4 linked regions of the Homo sapiens genome follow. The protein of the gene in region 4 purifies or fractionates together with the protein of the main gene of each other region. This does not show direct contact. Each region holds a gene or a part of one and is shown on either strand. Other genes may lie near its edges.

The links. The genes of interacting proteins can lie anywhere in the genome.
Region 1: the proteins of SPX (region 4) and IBA57 purify together in Homo sapiens (affinity purification with mass spectrometry; one large-scale study listed by BioGRID and IntAct). This does not show direct contact.
Region 2: the proteins of SPX (region 4) and TBC1D1 purify together in Homo sapiens (affinity purification with mass spectrometry; one large-scale study listed by BioGRID and IntAct). This does not show direct contact.
Region 3: the proteins of SPX (region 4) and CLN5 purify together in Homo sapiens (affinity purification with mass spectrometry; one large-scale study listed by BioGRID and IntAct). This does not show direct contact.

Annotation. Positions count from the first base shown.
Region 1 is NC_000001.11:228,179,281-228,182,757, reverse strand, and holds the end of IBA57 (iron-sulfur cluster assembly factor IBA57, mitochondrial isoform 1 precursor), read right to left. Parts: 3' UTR 501-3,477; downstream 1-500. UniProt on the Homo sapiens protein: Mitochondrial protein involved in the maturation of mitochondrial [4Fe-4S]-proteins in the late stage of the iron-sulfur cluster assembly pathway. Operates in cooperation with ISCA2 in the maturation of [4Fe-4S] proteins.
Region 2 is NC_000004.12:38,048,084-38,051,583, reverse strand, and holds part of TBC1D1 (TBC1 domain family member 1), read right to left. Parts: intron 1,967-3,500; coding exon 1,686-1,966; intron 1-1,685. UniProt on the Homo sapiens protein: May act as a GTPase-activating protein for Rab family protein(s). May play a role in the cell cycle and differentiation of various tissues.
Region 3 is NC_000013.11:77,002,081-77,005,617, reverse strand, and holds the end of CLN5 (bis(monoacylglycero)phosphate synthase CLN5), read right to left. Parts: 3' UTR 501-3,537; downstream 1-500. UniProt on the Homo sapiens protein: Exhibits palmitoyl protein thioesterase (S-depalmitoylation) activity in vitro and most likely plays a role in protein S-depalmitoylation.
Region 4 is NC_000012.12:21,528,348-21,534,116, forward strand, and holds the end of SPX (spexin precursor), read left to right. Parts: intron 1-653; coding exon 654-737; intron 738-2,789; coding exon 2,790-2,848; 3' UTR 2,849-4,600; downstream 4,601-5,769. UniProt on the Homo sapiens protein: Plays a role as a central modulator of cardiovascular and renal function and nociception. Also plays a role in energy metabolism and storage. Inhibits adrenocortical cell proliferation with minor stimulation on corticosteroid release.

The sequences.
Region 1 (3,477 bases), on a different chromosome or scaffold from region 4:
CCCCACCCACCACACACCCCGTCCCCACCATACAAACCCCGTCCTCCCCCACACACCCCATCCCCCCACACACACCCCGTCCCCACCGCACACACCCCGTCCCCACCGCACACACCCCGTCCCCACCGCACACACCCCGTCCCCACCGCACACACCCCGTCCCCAGCACACACACCCCGTCCCCACCGCACACACCCCGTCCCCAGCGCACACACCTCATCTCCCCACCACACACACCCCGTCCCCACCGCACACCTCGTCCCCACCACACACACCCCATCTCCCCACCACACACACCCCGTCCCCACCGCACACCCCATCCCCACCGCACACACCCCGTCCCCACCACACACACCCCGTCCCCACCACACACCTCGTCCCCACCACACACTTCCCGTCCCCCCACCACACACCCCGTCCCCACCATACACACCCCGTCCCCACCACACACACCCTGTCCCGCTTTCCTGCTTCATTTTTCACCATAGAGCCCGTAGCAATAAAATATACTGTGTACTTTATTTTCATTGGCTATAAGCATTCAATACATGGTTGAATGAATGAAGAAATGAATGAATCAATGAAAGATGGACCAGAGCTCAGCCATCTCCCAGTTTTTCTTCAGCAGGACCCCCTGCTATTATTGTCCCTGAGAACTTCTCACTGAGAGAGTCTGACATAAAACAAAATGTATTAATCCTTCATTTCTCCCACAAATGCCGATGCGCACAAACTAAGCTAGCACCATCGCCAGGGAAATCAAAGACGGGGACACTGGAGATGGTCAGATGCCCACAGCCCAGACAGTCACAGTCCTAGCTTGGGCTCCCTGCCCCAGGGTTGGCACGTGGAGCACTGCCCTGGGTCTCCATGGCCCATAGCCAGACAGACCCTTTTTCTTACTTTTCTCAAACCAAGGTGTTCACCCAAGACGTTCAAAATTTAAACACTGAATCTCTAAATGGAAACTAAGAAGACTGACAGCACCAAGCGCTGGCGAGGACGCAGTATGACAAGAACCTGGCACACTTCTGGTGGGAATGTAAATGCTGCACTCACTCCGGGAAAATGTCTGGCAGTTCCTAGCAACACTGAGTTTTCCTGCCCTGTGGCCCAGAGCTCCACCCCAGGGGCTTACCAGAAAGACAGGAAAATGTATGTACACACAACCTGTGCAAGTGTGGAGATGCAGAGACCCCTGAATAAGAACAGGCAAACATTCCTTATTCCCAGCTTGCTAAAGTAAGGGAATCAGTCGCCATCACTCATATTGGGTGGAGATGCCCAGGCTGGCCAGAGGAGTGGGAGAGCTTCCAGGTGAGACAGGGACGGCTCCAGGTGAGCCCTGATGGAGTCTGTGGCCTGGGGAACTAGAGGCAGCTCACAGGAGTGGGCCTCCCATGAGATTGGTGAAGGAAGTGTCTGCCTCCATTTGTGCTGCTACAAGAGAATACCTGAGGCTGACTCATTTACAAGGAACAGAGGTTTATTGGCTCACGGTTCTGGAGACCGGACAGTCCAAGATCCAGGAACTGGCCGACTTGGGAATTCCACCTCCAAGATGGTGCTTTGAACACTGGAGGGCAAGAGAGGCACAAGCGGGCTGGACTTACCCTTTCATAACATTAACTCCGCCCTTGGAGAGTGGAGCCCTCACAGCCTAATCACCTCTTACAGGCCCCATCTCTTAACACTGTTAGAATGGCAATTCAATTTCAACATGAAGTTAGCACAGTGCCTCATGCCCCAATCCCAGCTACTTGGGGACAAGAGTTGAAGACCAGCATTTAAAAACAAAAAATTTTAAAAATTAGCATGCACCTGTGGTCCCAGCTACTCAGGAGGCTGAGGTGGGAAGATCACCTGAGCCCAGAAATTCAAGACCAGCCTGGGCAATGCAGTGAGAACCCCATCTCTACAAAAAGTAAAAAAAAAAAAAAAAAATTAGCTGAGTGTGATGACTCACACCTGTAGTTCCTGCTACTCAGGAGGCTGAGGCAGGAGAATCATCTGAGCCCAGAAGGTTGAGGCTGTAGTGAGCTGTGTTTATGCCACTCCACTCCAGCCTGGGCAAGAGTGAGACTCTGTCTCAAAAAAAAAAAAAACACTCCCAACTACGATTTTGAGTTTGTTCATTTCTCCTTGAAGGACTGGCTTTTAAATTCCATGGTCTTCCCTCTATAGTTTGGAAGATATATTTCCATTCTTTTAGAGATTATCTGAAAACTCTGATAAGCCTTGTAACAGATGCTGAAGTCAGTGTCCGTGCCCTCCTTCCGACCAGTAGGGGGACTTTAGAACACTGTAGGTTTGGGCACCTCTCTCCCAACTCAACATGTGGCATCTTTTTTATAAACTCCAAAAGTAGGCATTCTAAGTAGAAGCTTCTAGATGTGGTGTTTTAGACATGCCCACAAATCCACCTTCCTGCCTATTCACTCCTTCTTCCATCTCCAGCTTCCCCACAGGATCCCTCGCCAGAAGCCCAGACATGCCTTAGACGCTCTAGGCTCTGCTGGCAGCAAACTCCGGAGTGAGGGCAGTTTCGTGGTATGAAAATGCGTTTAGCCCTCTTTTTTTTTTTTTTTTTTTTTTTTTTTTTGAGACAGAGTCTCATTCTATTGCCCAGGCTGGAGTGCAATGGCACAATCTTGGCTCACTGCAACCTCTGCCTCCTGGGTTCAAGTGATTCTCCTGCCTCAGCCTCCCGAGTAGCTGGGATTACAGGAATATGCCACCACACCCAGCTAATTTTTATATTTTTAGTAGAGACAGGGTTTCACCATGTTGATCAGGCTGGTCTTGAACTCCTGACCTCAGGTGATCCACCTGCCTTGGCCTCCCAAAGTGCTGGGAATACAGACGTGAGCCACTGCGCCTGGCCCCTCATTCTTGAAAGACGGATTTTCTGGGTACACAATTCTAGGCTATCACTATTTTCTCCCAGGACTTTGAAGATATTATTTACTATCTTTCTGGCTTCCACTGTTGCTTTTAATCAACTACTTATTTTCTTCTTTCCAGATAATCTCTTTCTTTTCTGCCTTAAGATCTCTTTGTCATGAGATTCTGTACTTTCACCAAGACGTGACTGTTTGGGTAGAGCTTTTTAACTATGCTGCTTGGGAGCTGCTGGTTCCTGAACCTAAGGAGCAGGGGCTCCTGTTGGTTTGGGAAAGTTCTCAGCCGTATTTCTCTGAATACTTGCCTCCACCCCATATTCTCTTTCCCCTCCTTCTGGAATTACTCGTAAATTGCGGATGTCATACTAAACTCTCCATCTTCTTGTCTCATCCCATCTCATATTTTCCAGCTCTGTCTTTCTGTGCTGCACTTTGGGTCATTTCTTCAAACAGTTCCCGATTCTTCAGGAAACACATCATGGAATATTTTTTAGAGTATTTTATTTTTATTTCAACAAGTTCTCTTTTTAAAATCTGCTTGGTCATTTTTATAGTCTCTTGCTTCCTGTGCATA
Region 2 (3,500 bases), on a different chromosome or scaffold from region 4:
TGACTGTGACCTTGAACTCTTGGCCTCAAGCAACCTCCCACCTCAGTCTCCCAAAGCTCTGGGATTACAGGAGTGAGCCACTTCGCCCAGGAACAATAATATTTCTTTCTCTATTTTCTTTTTCAGGAACTGGCAGGAAAAAAAATTTTTAATTAAAGTATAAACAAAAGCAAAAAAAAACTGAACTTTAAAAAATACATTTCCCTTTAAAATGAACAATATCCTGCCCTGAATTTCAATGTCTTATTTCCTGTAGATAAATCGGAAAAGAGCTCACAAGGGGGAAAGAAAGCAGAATGGGCCATGCTAGAGAGGCAGACAGACAGGCATCTCCTCATCCCTCCCATTACGGATGTGTGACATCATCTATTATAAAGCTACATTCTTCATGGAGAAAGGAAAAGTACTGATACTAAGTCCTATCAACTCTGGCTTTTGAGAAACAGCAGACTTCACAAGAGAACTAGGACTCTCCAGACAGGAATGTTTCAATGATCACTGAAAACGCCAACAACAGAGGAGTGGGCAGGCAGTGGTGAGGCAGCACAGAAGTAATGTGCAGACAGGGTGTTAAACACAAGAAACTTACACAGCTACAACCCAACGATGTGTGTCTCTAAAAGCGTGTATTTATTAAGCAGTACCTTCTGACATGTCCCCTGCTTTTGGGATCACCACTACCCCGCTGAATTCCAAAGAACCAAGAACTCTTTCCAATGGCTGACAGAAAACAAAGCTGGGAGGCTCTGCTCCATCATCCAGGACTGTTAATGCTCACACTTCTTTACTCAGAACATTCCAAACACTTCTGTACTAACTCACACTCTCAATGATCCGTGTATGAACTACACGAACACATAGGTCCTGGGACTTCTGCGGCTGCTGGTCAGAAGAAGGCAGCGACTGTACACAGGTGTGACCTTGATTCATATTAGGTGAGAGATTTTTAAAATTGTTTAAAGTTGTTTTTAAAGATAACTGTGTCCATTTATAGTCTCTGGCACACAGAGTTAAATGAATCACTAAGGGACACTTGGAAGGAATGGGGGGAACTTCTGATTACTCTTCTCCATAACCAGACGATTCTAACTGGTCACAGGAACCCAACTATTACAATGAATAAATCTTGTTAGAAGAATCTAGAATTCTTACAGTGAGAGATTTTAGAAAACATCTACTCCAATTTTGTTATTCAGAGAATTTAGCAAATTCGTCCAGGTCACAATTAGTTCACGGCAGAGCTAGGACCAGAAGCTGAAGCACCCCTGTCACCCTATGAGGCCAGCATACCTCTCTTGCTCTGCCTGTAAGGATCAGCGCCTCTCCCTCCCATTATAACCCTGCTCCAGGGCTTCAGATGGGGAGACTCATCCGCTTGCCCTCTTCCTCACAGCAGCAAAGTTCCACAGTCAACAACGTCTCTTACTTTGTTTGAGGAGTAATGACTATGCATGTTAGGTACCATTTTTGCTCACTTTCACTTGCTTCCTGACAATACAAGTACCCATTGCTTGTATACTCACAAGCAGCTCGAACGAACATGTCACTGCTTCCAGTTTTATCTCCAAACCAAGAGTAAAGCCTGACTCATTTCTCTCACTCAATAAACATACCTGGGATGCACATACCTGGCTAGTCACAGATATGCCCCAGCTATTTATGCAACAAATTTAAACAAATCTTACTTTCGTTCATGAGGCGTCTCTGTGCTCACTGAGTGATACCTCATAAGTTTCCTTTGCGAAACCCCCGGGGACCCCCGGGCAGGTTGTGGAGGTTCCTGGCATTCGATGGGGAAGTGACTCAGGGTGTTTGCTCGCCTCCTGAAGGCCTGCTGGGGCGACAGCGGAGCTGGCTCTTCTGGGAGATGACTCTCCGAGTCACTGGACAGGTCCTCCGAGGAGCCGAGGAGCTTAAAGGAGCTCTCAGAGATGGGCAAGGCCTCCTTTTCACACACAGATGGCTCCTGGGAGCAAACACACAGCAGATCAGACACACCATGGGGAATATGTGGGATTTATAAATCTCTAGTTCCTGCACGGGCAAACATTGCAGTATCTAAGTATGTGTTCTGATTATAATGCCATCTAGAAGCCACCACCAAAAGCAGAAGAAAATGAAGGTCCATTAAATAAATGCCCGCTCCTCAAGGACACACTGCTGGCTTGCTGGAGAAATGGGGAGACTGGCCAAGTGCAGGAGTGAAGGACATAAGCCACAATCTGTAACGTTCTGAACAACGCCATGAATAGTGCCCTCTCTCTAGAAAACAGGACTGTTTACTGCAGCTTCTAAGGGGTGTGAGTGCTGGAGAACTTGTCTCCACTGCTTAACCAAGTTCTTTATCTTTGCCACATGTGTTCACTCATGTTAAACCCACATTTTAAGGCTCTCTCCGAATCTGATCTACTGTTGAGATTCGACTTCATAATTTGAGATTAAGAACTGTATCAATATTCTTAGAATATGGAAAATCACTCTGTAGGCACTTACTGCTGCAATTCAGGGCAAATAATTTCTTTCTGCACCTCAATTTCTTCTGTAAGAGGGTAAAGTAAAAATGTATCTGAGTTTCAAGAACAAAGCAAGATGATACAACCAAAAGTACTTTTTATGTTGTAAAATGTTACACAAACATAAGTTATTGTTTTATTAGGTATGCAATAAATCTATGGAGTGAGTGCTCAAACATTTGTTGAGAATCATGACAATATTTTAAAGTTGTATGCCTTCACGATGCACGCTTTTTCAAAGGAATGAACTACTACCACTCAAGCAAACTGATGTTTAACACTGCACCCAGGACGTGGCTAGTGGCCAATATATTTTTAATATATTCAAAATATTCAAAAAGAGGAATTGTAGCAGCTTGCTCCTATTGAAATTGTTGGAAGAGAAAAAATAAATCAACAGGAATAGAGTAAACAAGAATGAATGCATCTAACAGTGGACTGGAGACTGAATTCTACCTGTTCATTTACACAGTTGAGTGCCTTTTAGGTAACAAGTATTGAGGGTTTTAATTTGAAAAAAAAAAAAAAAGAAATGTGTTTACCAAAGGGAGAAGTTACATACATTTAATTGTATAAGAATTAGGAAAAAATTCCCAACATACTATGAAATATTGATTACTTTCATAACTGAAGTTTTTCATTCTTCAGGACTCAACAGTTGTGAAGATTCTTTTAAGGATTTAAAAGTCTCTCTAAGACAATACATCACAGAACACAATCTCCATCATGCAAACCTGTTGATCTAAATTCTTACTAATATCCCTCCAAATCATATCAAAGAGCTAACCCTTAGCTTAATTGGACAACTGAAAGGGCCATTTTCATTTGTCAAGTTTCAGGGCTATTTGGTTTCTTTGCAACTCCTAGGTGATCAATTTTTTAGAAGGGATCCAATTACATAAAATAGAATATAGTAGTTTCTCAATTCAAGATGAATAAAAGAAAGATGTAAAGTACACTTAAACATATACAATACATACAAGCAGC
Region 3 (3,537 bases), on a different chromosome or scaffold from region 4:
CCTACAGCAACATATGAGAAGAAAAAAGGCTTATCTAGATTCGAAAATTAACAGCAATTATAGTAATATATCCCCTCCTTCTAAATAGTAAAAAGCTCTGATTGTACAAGAATTACCTGTGCTAGTCAAGTTGTTGTTTTTCCTTGAACAACTTTGGAAAAATGGATTTGACAGTACATAATCAGTTCTACTAACCAAAGCTTGTATTTGGAAATTTACTTTTTGTACAAATTGAATTATATAATGCTTAAAATACTTTGTCACTTTATAAGCAAAATGCATAGTACTTAATTTGTTTATACTGTAAAGTATATGTTAAATGCTTTTATCACTTTGAGAATAAAAAGTTACTAATGCTGTTGTATTTTACTTTTTAAAAACTACACAAACATTTGACTTTAAACTTAAAAATGTTTCAAATCCATATTTGATGGATATAATATTTAATATTAAACAATGTTTATGATAGACTCGCCTTTTTGAAGATACAAGGTTAGGCTCATGGAATCTATTCTTGAAATAAGCTCTGATGCCTAAAGAAATAGGAAATTTAAAACCTACCATGAAATATAAATTTTTAAATTTTTATACAGAAAATAATAGGTTCTTTCTGCATTCAGAATGAGAACTTATAAAACAGATTATTTAGACATAGAATCAGTCTTTAAGGGTCCTTGAACCCAACCAGTCTTTTTAGAGATAAATGTCTTTATATAAATTAGAATAGTTTTTCAACTATTGAAATTATTTTCATTGTTTTACTGGCTTTCAACTTATCTTGGTAATTTGGGCTGTTGTAACCATATCAGAAAAAATAGGTATGATTGAAGATTAAGTCAATTTAGTGCATTTTAAGAACTTTAGGCTGAAAGGAAGACGTTCATGTGAAGAAGGTTCAAGCCTCCACTAGGTCCTTTAAAATTTTTTTTTTTTACACTAGGTCCTTTAACACACTATAATTTCTACCCCACACATAGATAGTAATGAGCTTTGCACAGACTCCAACCCCAGTTTGTGGGGCTGGTTTTAATTTTACCAGGCAGGAAAATTCCAGCTGCTTGCTGACACCCAACTTTAAAAAGGGCACAAAGCCTTTTACTCCGAAAGTGAAGTAAGAGCTTATCCTTAGAATAATCAGTCCAATAAAAGGATAAATAATCCTAACTTGTTTTAAGTAGGAGACAAAATTTTGAAAGGAAGGTTTGAAGAGCAGGAAACCACTTGGATAATAAAGGGTAAATATGACGAAGATGCTGGAAACACTTTGGCCAGCCTGTTTGCCTTTGTGAACAGGGAAAAAGCATGTGTGTAGTTTTGGAACATCACTCTTTGTATAGCCTGCCAACTATTTAAAAAATAAAACATCTTACAGGAACTATAATTCCAGGTAATTCATTAAGTGCCACCACAGCAGACCATAAAACTGGATAAGACTTCCTAAGACTTGATTTTTTTCTCCAATTTTTAAGGAGCCACCAATATTGAGGGTTCCAAATAAAGTTAGTAGGTTTCTTCACTGTGTTTTCCTCTACATGCAACAATATATTAGATGACACTTTGTGGGTATACTTACTTAACTAATTTTGTGCCAGATTAATGAGGAGATATATTCACTCTAAAGCCCTAGTCAGACTAAAAATGTATAAATTTTATACATCTACAACATTTTTTTGAGACGGAGTCTCACTCTGTTGCCAGGCTGGAGTGCAGTGGTGCGATCTTGGCTCGTGGGAACCTCCACCTCCTGGATTCAAGTGATTCTCCTGCCTCAGCCTCCCAAGTAGCTGGGACTACAGGCATGCTCCACCACAACCAGCTAATTTTTGTATTTTCAGTAGAGACGGGGTTTCACCATGTTGGCCAGGCTGGTCTCGAACTCCTGACCTCAAGTGATCCGTCCACCTTGGCCTCCCAAAGTATGTGTTAGGATTACAGGCATAAGCCACCGCACCCAGCCTACATCTATAACAATAGCAAAATAGAAACTGCATTTAAGTTGTACTTAAGTTATAATTAAAGTAAATCACATTAAGTCATATTGCTCAAAGGGCAGCAAAACTTAATTGGCAGATTTCTGCGTGGCTATGTTTTGGTTTCTCAACTACTATTTTGAAAGCATGTTCTTGAATCATCTTCACCTGAAAGCTCTACATCTTGTAAGTAGAGCTGACAGGTTTAATTCTTAAGAAATACTTTTGTAAATGTTAATGCTGTCTGTGCTGTAGTTACCTGACTTTATGATGCTTTCTGTCTTCATTTAATTAAGATTCTTAGGAACAATGAAAAATCTTGAATGCTTTTTTTTTGAGACGGAGTCTCGCTCTGTCGCCCAGGCTGGAGTGCAGTGGCGCCATCTCAGCTCACTGCAACCTCTGCCTCCTGGGTTCAAGTGATTCTCCTGCCTTAGCCTCACGTGTAGCTGGGATTACAGGCATGGACCACCACCCCTAGCTTTTTTTTTTTTTTTTTAATTTTAGGAGAAACGGGGTTTCACCACATTGGCCAGGCTGGTCTTGAACTCCCGACCTTCAGTGATCCTTCCACCACCTCAGTTTCGCAAAGTGATAGGATTACAGGCGTAAGCCACTGTGCCTACTCAAAAATCTTGAATGCTTTTTTCACATAACTATTAGAATCTTGTTTAAAAGTTCCAGGTACAGATATCCTCATTTGTTTTCCCTGCATAACCAAGTTCTTTGATTTGCAGTTGACCAAAACTTGGTACAAGAATCTTTGTCTCTTCAAGGCAGTTCTGGAAATCCAAAATCCTGTAGTTTTTCCAGAGCAATTTCCTGAGTTTGGTAGAAGTTCGTGTTGCCTGAGTTTAGCCACTAGATGGTGATAATGCACAGATCCAAGTTTTCTTGTAACATTGTGAAAACAATTAGCAGGTTAAAGAGGCAGTATTAATTTGGAATATTTAGGCATTATTATAAGGAGTCGACAGGCTAAAGGAGGCGTGAAAGAAAGTTCTCCCTCTGTATTTGAGGAAGATATCTGGTGACTGGGTTATTTTCAGACTGTTGTGGGACTACAGTTGAAAAAAAAAAACCCAGCAAAAATGAATTCCTAGACAAAATAAGACCAAAGACACATAAAATACAAGCTCCAATTTTTTTAATTAGACCCAACAGAAACAAAAACACTCCAATAAATTGTTTATAAAAGCTTCCTGTCAGTATCTGTACTTATTTCCTCACAGACCAGTAACATCTGGTTGGCAGGCACTGGTCTGAGGACCACACTTCGGTGCTAAAAGCCTGTACTATAGTGCATCCAATTCAGTCAGCAGAACCGGGGTTCAAGACCTGACTTCATTACTACTAGCTGGATAGCCAGAGAAAGATCACTTAGCCTTTCTAAGGTCCACTTTACTCATTTGGATCAGGTTAATTATATCTATGATTAAGCTTTCTGTGAGAGCTCAATAATAATGTACTAACCTCTCAGGAAGTACTTGAAAGTTGAAACTGAATCACATAATTGGTACATTTACATATTAAACGTGAATTGTTTTATCTGATATCTACTCCATCT
Region 4 (5,769 bases):
TTAAGGATGGGACCGGGGACTGTTCTTTTTCATGATAAACCTTTCCATCGTATTGTATTAACAAATAACAATACAATTTGATGAAATTGTAAAGATTGAAATGCTAAAATTAAAAAGTATACTTACTTGGAAAAATACCAAACACTGTTGAACACATAGTAGGTGCTTAAATTTTTGTTTAGGCTCTTCAAACATGCTGTGTAATTGAGCTTATTTATTTTATGAGGTTAAGATTTGTTTCTCAACTTCAGTTGCCCCAAATTAGAAATCATGTTTTGTGCTGAATCAGAACAATTTGTCTTTTTTCAACTTAGATTTGAAATAACTTTGAGTTCTTAGCAGATACTCCTTCAGTCAAATAATTACCTTATATTTGGCCGCAAAGGTTAAATTATTATCTAAAATTCTCTTTGGCATATAGTTTAACATTCTCTTCCATACCCTGTTTGTAAACTTGACATAACCAATTGTAAGTCATTTCCAAGGCAATTGTGACATGTTAAAAAATTAGTCTTCTGTGTAAGTAGTCCTTTGTTGAGGGGTCAAAATCTATTTCATAGAGGTTTTTCTAGTATTGCTGCATGTTAGAATAGGACTTATCTACATCAATATATAAATGCTAAGAGAATCTGTATACATTTTTGTTTCTGCAGAAAGACGAAGCCCAAATCCCCAACTACTAACTATTCCGGAGGCAGCAACCATCTTACTGGCGTCCCTTCAGAAATCACCAGAAGGTACTAGCATAGTGGCCTCTTTCACCTGCATAACAGAACAGCTTTGCTTACTTTCGGGATTCTGTGTTGAGTGCAACACCCCTCCCCCAGAATTTCTTGGCCTTAGGCCCAGAAATTCTAATTCTGTACTGCTTGAGTGAGGCCCAAGAATCTCTGTCCTTAAGAAGTTCTTCCACATTATTCTGATGATTGGTCAGGTTTGAAAACAGGAACTTCAGAGCCCGTTAATAAAGGTTGAAATCATGAGAATGGAGATACCTTCTAGGGCTTAGATATAGTGGGAAAAGGGAAGACAATAAAACACCCAAAAATCAAGGGAAATGGGGGGAAATAGTACCAGTGAAGGGACATTAAAAGGAGCAAGCAGAAAGGTAAGAGGAAAATCAGAATAAGAGAGTATCCCAGAATTCATTCAGTAGCTGATGCTACTGATCCCGCTCCTCTTGAAACTTTCCAGGGATGGAAACTATCAGAATGGTTACTATAGCAGAATGGTTAGTAAGAATACAGAACTCAGGGGACATTAAACAGTGTGTCACAGGACTTCCCCCCACCTCCTGCCCAGTGACACAGCTTGCTGCTGCTATTCCATATCTGAAACTTTGTTTACAGAATGTGATACAAGAAAGTAAACTGCAAAGTTAAGAGAAAGCAGGTCTCAGGCTCTGGAGAGCTGGCATGACTCTCAGAACTCTTGCAGTGAAAAGGTGTGAAATAGTTGAATAACGGGTAGAGGATGCTGTATCCAAGGTGTTCTTTTTAAAACCCAAGACATGGAACCCAGCGATTTTTGGAGTCAGTACGAAAAGAGCTCTGATGGAGATTGGTTGATAGTGACGTTTTAGATTTGATTGTTGGGAAAATGTGCAGAGCCAGAAAGGAAAGTGACTTATAATGGACAAGAGAGAGCTAATTTTAAAGAGGAGAGGTATCTTCATTAGCAATTTGAGGAAAGGATGTGATTATAGGTCCCCATCTCAAGTCTTTTTTGGAAAATAAATATGTATTTTTTTAATTATTGAAGTTTTCTAAGTGGATTGTCTCTGAAGATGAAATGACTAATTTTATTAGTCTAAATTGATAGAAAAGTTTTTGATTCCCATATGATAAATTAATCACTAGTCTTCTTTAGTATTTTTATTCTATACTACCTCATTATTATTTAGAAGGCTCTTATTTAGTGAATTATGGTTTCAGTGGAATTTATACAGGGACGCCGTTCTGGTTTTGTTTTGTTTTGTTTTGTTTTCTTCCTTCCCTTTAAAGAGAAGCCCATTTTCTGCAATGGTTTAAAGTGTGCTAGAAATTCAGGTTAAGATGTAACCCAAACATTCAAATTATATTGCAACTAACTGAAAGAATGTGCTTTTATCTAGAGGTGATCTTAGAAGAAATTAGTAGATGCACTTTGCCCCTGGCCACTGCTTCTCCCTACCGTATTGTAACTTTTAGTCATTCTATCCTATTTTTAGAGTCCCAGGAACCTGCTATTGTCTAACTCTTTAAGTATCCCCACCTCAGAAGTGATACCTCATGCTCTAAAGTTTCGCGATCCCAGCCAGCAAACGAGTGCCTCTTCTTTTTGTCTCATTTCCTCCCCAGAACTCTAGCTCCCCTAATAAAAGAACATTTGCAAATGTGTTCCCATGTCATCTTTCCCGAGCAAGATCCATTTTAACAGGAAATATAAAGAGACAGTCCTTTGATGCAAGTGAATTATTTTAATGGTGGGTATTTTAGATATAAGTCAATCTGTGAGAGCAAGACACATGACTTTTGAGATTTTTACCAGACATACCATACTGTAGTTTCAGTCATTATAGAGGTTCAGATGTAAAATATGAATTCCCCAATGTGTCCCAAGCTGAGAAAAAAAGATTTTAAACTGAGCAAATCAAAGCCCATATTGTTTAAATTTTCAGTAGCAGAGTCCATAAGTTAACATAGCTTAGAAGGCTAAATGTTTATTTCCTGAGATTCTCTTTGTCTTACCTTTTCCTCTATTAAAACGCAGAGTGTATATTTATTTTAAAGAATTTTTTTTTCTTACAGATGAAGAAAAAAACTTTGATCAAACCAGATTCCTGGAAGACAGTCTGCTTAACTGGTGAAAATATACTGGATTATGTTTAATTATGGTTCTATTCTCTTTGAAAACATGAACCATGTGAATAAAACCTTTGGACCCTTTTATTCCATTTGTAATCTTAAGAACACACACAGATAGTTTTATTCTTTCAGAAACAAAATATATATAGGATGCTTAGCTGAGAACATCATCTTCTTTCATTGCTTCAGGTCCTGTTTAGATGACCAAAAATGTTTTCAGATCACCTTGTGTCTTACTCTTGAGTTTCTTAGAATATTTATAATTATAAGGCTGAAGACTAAAGTGTTCTTTCCTTTTAACTATAGCCAGTACCTGTCTTGATCTTAGTTGTGTTTTTTTTTCATTTTGTTACCCACTTGCATTTTGTTTTCACTCAGCAGAAATTCTCCTTCTCTGTTTTCCTTTTATCCCATCCCCAAGAATGTGGAAGGAAGGTGAGAAACATGGCAGGATGGGAAATAGGAGAGTATGACTCTCTATAGCTCATCCAGGAGTAATCAATTAAGAAGATAAATTGGATGACTGTGGAGAAGCTCTGTGATAGGAACACTTCAGTGTGGTTGCTGAGAGGAGACAGTCATTGAGGTAGAAGGTTTGCCAAAGATCCAGAGCTCAGAGCTCCCTTTGTGCTCTTTGGGAATTACCTTGCATTCAGTTTAGAAACATGGATCTAAAAGTTACTGGGAAATAAGCAGATGGAGACACACTCTGTTGTTTACGTATTGGAAGAAGGGAACAAGCCAGTTTTGTTAGAGGTAACTCATTTTCCATGACCAAACAGACTCAACAGATTCAAGTACTCTGCTTACTCTAATTGACTAGACTCTAGGTTTTATTTGACATCATAGCATTACATAAATCACTCTGATAACATAAGTGCACAGTAATATGCCTGATCTCTTCCTTTTTAAAAGCCAACTTGAGTTCAGTACCATCTGAATACACACACATGCACATATACCCACACACGCATACACACATACTCCTGTGGCAAACATAATAATGTATTTATTTAGAATTATAATATGACCATCATGTTAATTATTTTTTACCTAATCAGAGTTGTTATTGACAAATGTCATAAGTGGAAAGTATTAATTCTTATTGTCATCAGTATTTAGCCATTATTTAGTAGCTCAAGAATATCTTTATGTGAATGTCTCTGTAACTTGGAATTGCAATTTCACTGTGTTAAGTAATCAGAACTCTGCTTATAAGATTTATCTGTATCTTGTTTCATAATTTAATAATGAAACTAAATTCAAGTTAATGTAATGTTGATCTCCGTCGAAAAATAACTTGTGAGCATTAAAATATCTGTATGGCATTATAATAGGCACCTGTCATTAATTATGATTTGATTTGAAAGTAGACTTACTAGGTAGTGCTTACATCTGATTTATTGAAAATTTTTTCCAAAAGCATTGTCTTTTATTTATACAGTCCTAACCACTTCACCATTAGGAGGGGTGGGACATTAAAAATTATTTACCCATCAGACATAAAATTGTACAAATTGACTATTCAAAATAGTATGTGTATTCAAAGAACACTTTTAACATCTATCTTATGAAATAATTCTTCCTACAACTAACCAGAACAATCTCAAAAATGTCATACTAACCATTGTTTTAAAAGCTGTCTCAATGATCAATAGCTGTTAAAATATAGCTCCAAGTATTCTAAGTACTCAAATTCCTTGAATGTTCTTATGTACAAATATGCTGATTAATTAAAAGGTCCCTCTTCCCAATTTTCTATAACTTTCCAACTCTCTTATGGTGTCTATATTCTGTTTATTTCTAGATTTTTAAAAAACCAAAATGAACAAGTGATCATAGATCAGAAAACCTTCACATTATATGGCTTGTGTTTTAAAATTGGGAATTTTCTGGCTTCAACACACAGATACATGCACTAGAATACCTTGATCTGCAGGGAGCGCTTTCAGCCACTTTCTGCACAGTTCTCATTGCCCTTCTCTTTTTTGCCTCTATAGCCTACCTCGGCTATCTGGCCTCCATCCTGGGCTCTTAATTATTCTTTGTTTTCCAGTAGTTGCCTTCGCTCCCTCAATACCATCATTGTGTTCCTAAGAGAGGAGAGAAGAAGGCGAAGTGACCCTGGCTTGTTCAGATTAGCCTCCAGCTTGCATTTCTTCTTTACCTGGTTATGATAAATGAAAATGTGTATCTTACAATCTTGAATTACATTATTTTATCTTGACCACAAAGAAAGGGAAGTTGGGAATGTAACTTCATTCTGTTCGGTCGCTTCATACTGGGCTATAAATTCCTTTAGAAAGAGCTCATTTTTAATTTGATTTGATCCTCACAACAACTGTGTGAAATGGGCCATTTTATTGCCCTTAGTACTCATAGAAATTTGGGTTCATTCAGTGAAGACTCTTCGGACCTCCCTAAGTAGACTTAACTAGTCCCCCTCCTGAGTCTTCCTTGTACCCTGGAAAACTATTAGTATAACACCTTGTAACATTTATGTTCTCATCTGCATATATAAAACCAGTTCTGTTCACTCTAACTCTTACTATGGAAGAGACAGTAGTATCTTGATCAGTTCAGGCTGCTAAAACAAAATACCACAAACTGTGTGGCTTATAAACAACAGAAATTTATTTCTCACAATTCTGGAGCCTGAGAAGTTCAAGATCAAGGTGTCAACAGAATCAGTGTCTGGTAGAAGGCCCATTTCTCATAGATGGCGCTTTCTTGCTGTGTCCTCACGTGGTGGAAAGGGCAAGGCAGCTCTCTGGGGCCTCTTTTATAAGGGCAGTAATCCTATTCATGAGGGCTCTGTCCACATGATCTAATCACTTCCCAAAGGCTCTGCCTCCTTTGTGGATACCATCACATTGGGGATTAGGATTTCAATACAGACGGGCCCAACTTATGATGGTTCGAT